Regions from separate parts of the Homo sapiens genome. Here region 2 is linked to region 1. Evidence: fine-mapped expression QTL. A gene starts in region 1. The other region holds a variant in brackets. All regions are shown on one strand. Distances are from middle to middle.

Region 1 (2,909 bases):
ATTTGCAAACTATGCATCAGGCAAGAGGTTAATACACAAAACATCTAAAGAATTCAAACTACTCAAAAGTGAAAATACAAATAATCTTATTTTTAAAAATCTACCCAAAACCTTTGTCCCCCACCATTTCCCCACCTTCTTTTCCTGACCGCATTTGGCCCTCTCCCTCTCACCACCCTTTCTCTTCCTCCATCTACCCCAAACTTTTTCACCGTTTTCTCCCTACCGTCATTTCGCAAAGCCTTCTCTACTCTCCCGCTCACCACGCTTTTCCCCATCCATCTACCCAAACACTTTCTCCCACCGTATTTTTTTTCCCACCGTATTTTCCCCCTTCTCCCTGGCCACCCTCTTTTTCCCCCTCCCGCTGTCATCACGCCCTTTTGCTCCTTCATATAAGCAAAAACATTTTCCCCCGTCTTTTCCCAAAGCCTTTTCCCTACTGCTGCTCACCACCCTCTTTTCCCCCTTTATCTACCCAAAAACTGTTTTCCTCATCGTCTTTCCCCCGGCTCCTCCTTGCCACTCTCCTTCCCTTCTCCATCTACCCAAAAACATTTCCCCACCATCTTTTCTCAAAGCCTTTTCCCCACTCCTGCTCACCTCCCTCTTTTCCCCATCTACCCCCCAAAATTTCCCCATCTTTTCACAAAGTCTGCCCCTGCTTCCCACTCGTTCTCTTCTCTCCCCTATACTGCTTGCCACCCTCCTTTTTGCCTTCCATCTACCCCAAACTATTTTCCCGTCTTTTCCCCAAACTTCTTTCCCTGCTCCCTCTCGCCACCCTCTTTTCTCCTCCTCCTTGTCACCCTCTTTCCCTCCTCCATCTACCCAAACACTTTTTACCTACCATCTTTTCTCCACCATCTTTCTTTTCTGCCACTGTTTTTTCGCAAAACCTTGTCTTCCTCCCGCTGGTTACCCTCTTTTTCCTTCTCCCACTTGCTATCTTCTTTTGCTCCTCTACCCAAAAACTTCTCTCCCCACCATCTTTTCACAAAACCTTCTCTCCCTACTGCTCGCCCATTTTCCCCCCCTCACCACTCTTTCCTCTTCCCAATTGCCACCTTCTTTTCCCCCTTCATCCACCCATAAACTTTCTACCCACCGTCTTTCTGCAAAACCTTCCTTCCCTCCCTCTCTGCACCCTGTTTTTCCACCTCCATCTACCCAAAAACTTTTTTCCCCACCATCTTTTCCCCATCGTCTTTTTGCAACGCCTTCTCCTCCTCGCTATCCTTTTTTCCCTTTGGCACTAACCACACTCTTTACCCACCTCTATCTATCCCAAAACTATCTTCTTCTTCCTACCCCTCCAGCCGCGCTGCAATGTCCACCGCCACCACCAACCGCAGCGAGGCGAGCCGCGCCACGGTGCCGCGGCTCAAGCCTCCAGCATACGACCTGTGACTCCTTTTCCTGGTCTTCTAAGCCGGGCACTGAGCAGCTCAATAGAAACACACGGAAACCTAAAAAAACAAAAACAAAAAAAACAACAACAAAAAAAACGTAACTCTGCTTCAGCATTATTTATATCCTGAGGTTATGCGCATGCCGGTTCCTAGACTGCATGTTCTGATTGGATGAGAGCAAGTCTTAAGACAACCAATCACAGCATGAAAATAAAGTCCAATCAGAGTAGGCCTAGAGGTTTTTCTCTCATCCAATCAGAACATGTAGTCCAGGGTCTCCTAACCTCAGTATATAAAGCATGCTGAGGCAGCGGCGCGTCATTTCTGGCACTTATGTGTGGGTGTGGGGAGCTACTACGTACCCGGCTTAAAGAACTGGAAGGCTCCGTCACTTTTCGCCCCCTGGAGCCTGGAGCTTGGAGCCTGGAGCCTGGGGCACTCCCTCCCTGTTGGTGGTGGTGGTGACGGAGCGGTAGGAGGGAGGCTAGCAGCGAGAGCTTCTCCTGCCGGGCTGGAAGACAGAAAGAAGAGGCACCGCCGCGTGCTGGAGGCTGGAGCCGGAGCTTGCGCCTCCGCGGCTCGCCTCGCTGCGGTTGGTGGTGAAATCAGAGACCGCAGCTCGGCCACAGTGGTAGAAATGTGGTAGGGTAGGTGAGTTATCCAGGGCTGCACTGCCCTCTTCTGGGGGTAAGGGTTGGGTGTACTATAGGGGCTCACTGCCAAAGGCTACACTGCCTGTGGCATTGGACTGTTTGGGGGCACTCTCTGGGGTTGCATTGCTGGTGGTGGAATGGGGGGCTACACTGCCCGAGGTGGCAGGGGTGGTCGGGAGAGGCAGGTTGTGTACACTAACGTGTACTGCCAGTGGCGGTGGATGGCTTAGGGGCGTTGTCTTCTGCTGCACTGTCCGTGGCAGGGGCGGGTTGGGTGGAGTTATCTGGGGCTACAATGCTGGCAGTGGGGGGTGGTTTAAGGGCGTGGTCCGGTGCTGCACTGCCTGTGACTGGGGGTGCGCTATCAGGAGCTGCACTGCCCATGGCGGGGTGAGGGTGGGGCGGGTTTGGGGCGCTGTCTAGTGCAGCAATACCCGTGGCTGCGTCAGGTGGGCACTATCGGGTGCTAACACTGCCTGCGGCCGAGGAGTTGGGATGGTTTGGGGGGGTATTGGTTACATTGCCTGCAGCTGTTGGGTGTGCTATCCCAGGGTTACAGGGGGCAGGTTAGGGGTGCTATCGGGGGCTATACTGCCAGTGGGGTTGGTGGGCTGCAGAGGCAGCAGCGGCAGCGACAGCTGTGGCCTCCTTCCTCTTTCTGGTGGCCTCCATGGAAGGATGGAGTTCTTCTCTTCCCGGACTCCAGACTCTAGAGGGTGATCTCTTCGTGCTCATGCAATCTTGAGCACCGCAGGGCTCTCACACCCACTGTGGTTCCCTGGCCCGCGCCCTCACGCACGCTCTGTGTTGTGGAGACCATCTGGGACTACCGGGCAGGGAATAG
Region 2 (2,909 bases), 65 kb before region 1:
TCCGCCTCCTGGGTTCACGCCATTCTCCTGCCTCAGCCTCCCAAGTAGCTGGGACTACAGGCACCCACCACCACACCCGGCTACTTTTTTGTATTTTTTAATAGAGACGGGGTTTCACCATGTTAGCCAGGATGGTCTCGATCCCCTGACCTCATGATCCACCCGCCTCAGCCTCCCAAAGTGCTGGGATTACAGGCGTGAGCCACCACGCCCGGCCCTTTTTTAAAAAAATTATTATTATACTTTAAGTTCTGGGATACACATGCAGAATGCGTAGGTTTGTTACATAGGTATAAACATGCCATGGTGGTTTGCTGCACCCATCAATCTGTCATCTACATTAGGTATTTCTCCTAATGCTCTCCCTCCCCTAGTCCCCAGCTCCCTGAGAGGCCCCAGTGTGTGATGTTCCCCTCCCTGTGTCTATGTGTTCTCATTGTTCAACTCCCATTTATGAGTGAGAACATGTGGTGTTTGGTTTTCTGTTCCTGTATTAGTTTGCTGAGAATGATGGATTCCAGCTTCATCCATGTCCCTGCAAAGGACATGAACTCTTTCTTCTAAATCTTACCGAACACTCACTTTTGGTGGGTTTATGGACTCATCTACATGTTCTGGTGGTCATGGCTTATTTTTTGTGGCTTTTGTTCCCTGTAGCTATGGCATTGCTGGTTCTACCAACGTGACAGGTGATCAAGTTAAGAAGCTGGACGTCCTCTCCAACGACCTGGTTATGAACATGTTAAAGTCATCCTTTGCCACGTGTGTTCTCGTGTCAGAAGAAGATAAACACGCCATCATAGTGGAACCGGAGAAAAGGGTGGGTCTGTACTTCCACCATTGAGGGTTTTAATGTAGCCGGTCTTCTTCCCAGCTTCATAATTGACTCCACTTGTTCAGCTGAGCTGGGTTTCTGGGAGTCCCTCTAGATCCCTGCTGTGGTCTTTTCATAGCTTCCACCTCACTGCTGCCATCTCTCGAATCCTCCCTGAGCCACTGTGCAGATGAGTGTTGTGGCTCACGCCGCCTTCTCCCCAGTGGACTCCCACAAACTCATCTCCATTTCTAACTTTTTATTGCCATGTTTAAGGCTCTTCAAACCCTGGCTTCTGTTGGTCACCTCTTGTACTACATCCCTATCCACCAAATTCCTGACCTTCACACTGACCCTCCTGTTGACCTAGACTGCTTGAAACTTCCATCCCTGATGCACGCATTGGAGTCCCTATTGGTCTGTCTCTGCTTCTTTTTTTTTTTTTTTTTTTTTTTTTTTTGAGACAGTGTTTTGCTCTTGTTGCCCAGTCTGGTGTACAGTGGTGTGATCTTGGCTCACTGCAACCTCCGCCTCCTGGGTTCAAGCGATTCTCCTGCCTCAGCCTCCTGAGTAGCT[G/A]GGATTACAGGTTCCCGCCACCACACCTGGCTAATTTTTGTATTTTTAGTGGAGATGAGGTTTCACCATGTTGGCCAGGCTGGCCTTGAACTCCTGACCTCAAGTGACCCGCCCACCTTGGCCTCCCAAAGTGCTGGGATTACAGGTGTGAGCCACCACACCTGGCGTTATCTCTGCTTTTTGAGAGCAGAAAATGAATCTTATTTGTCTCTGTGTCCCAGTGTCTAGTGCAATGCCTGGCACATTGGAGGGCCTCAACAACAAATGACTGTTGAAAAAGATTGTTAAATGAAAGAGTATTCCCAGCTTTTATAAAACAACAATTGTAATTAGAAAAAAAAACTTCTGAGATTAGAAGTGCAGTTATATGGGCTTACTATCTTTCCCAGTTTGAGAGGAACTGGGAACATGAAGGAGTAGAATTAGGAAAAAACAATGAGAAGATGAAGAGGCTGCCTGTCCTCACCCTATTAAGAGGGCAGGAGCCACATCTGATGAAGTTGTTTTTCATCATTCCTAAAATAGCCGTACATGCCAGACTTGAAGTTCATGTTTTTCTCAGCTGGGCCTTTCAAGGTCTTTGGCAGCTTTAGGCGTATGGCTTAGATTTGTTGTTTAATATTCTCCATCACTCACGCCGGACTTCTCTTGTCTATCATGGGCCTTCATGATAGGCAGCTTCCTGTGTTCCAGTTTCCAGTTCCTCCTGCATTAGTGAGGGTGGTCTGTGAAGAGCAAGAGGGCAGGGAATCATGTTAATCTGCTACAGACATTTAAAAACGACATTGTAAAGTGGCTAATTTGGAGATGGAAAACTCCCAGTGATGTGCTGGTAAACTGGGTCTCAAAGCAAACAAACAAGTCTCTGATATGTCCACTTGCCTCTGTCAATGGTGTGAATACTCTCCCATCGTTGATTTTAAGCTACCAATGTGATATCACTGAAGGCAGAGTTGGGAAGAGATGTGCACCGTTAGCTCCTGAGAGCCGATACCAGCCAGCTCCTGCACACCACTGAAAATCCCACTCAAAACAGGAATCTGCGGTATTCCCACTACCACTGAAAGTTATCTACTTTGGGAATTACGCTAGAAATTTGTTTTGTTTAGTTTTGTTTTTAGAGACAGGGCCTCATTCTGTCACCCAGACTGGAGTGCACAGTCATGGCTCACTGCAGCCTCGAACTCCTGGCTCAAGTGATACCTCCTGTCTCAGCCTCCTGAGTAGCTGGGACTACAGATGTGCAGCATCATGCCCAGCTAATTGAATTTTTTTTTTTTTTTTTTTTTTTTTTTTTTTTTTTACAGAAGGAGTCTCTCTATGCTGCCCAGGCTGGTCTCAAACTCCTGGGCTCAAGCAATCCTCCTGTCTTAGCCTCCCAAAGTGCTAGGATTAGGCATGAGCCACCGTGCCCAGCCAGGATATTTTTGAAAACTCTATGCACCCCAACCTCAAGGGGCATCTGTAAGACCTCCATGAGAAGTTTCTTATAGATCTCAACCCTAGCAAAGTCTCTGCT

What was found. PIP is the estimated chance that this variant, and not a neighbour inherited with it, causes the effect. A credible set is the group of variants that fine-mapping cannot tell apart.
Region 2: its variant is the best candidate, but not a certain one, in a credible set for the expression of PCAT7 in prefrontal cortex (CommonMind, PIP 0.58).

The regions. Positions count from the first base shown.
Region 1 is chr9:94,553,713-94,556,621 of GRCh38, reverse strand. PCAT7 (prostate cancer associated transcript 7) reads right to left here and starts at 1,539. Exons shown (of 3, transcript NR_121567.3): 1 at 1,277-1,539. LOC124902218 (a long non-coding RNA gene) reads left to right here and starts at 1,733. Exons shown (of 2, transcript XR_007061674.1): 1 at 1,733-2,063. RefSeq lists enhancers at 1,338-2,000, 2,665-2,909.
Region 2 is chr9:94,618,240-94,621,148 of GRCh38, reverse strand. It overlaps FBP1 (fructose-bisphosphatase 1), which reads left to right. Exons shown (of 7, transcript NM_000507.4): 2 at 658-820. Among named protein-coding and RNA genes, the nearest start is that of FBP1, 20 kb to the left of the region's middle. The variant G/A (reference allele first, on the strand shown) is at 1,391.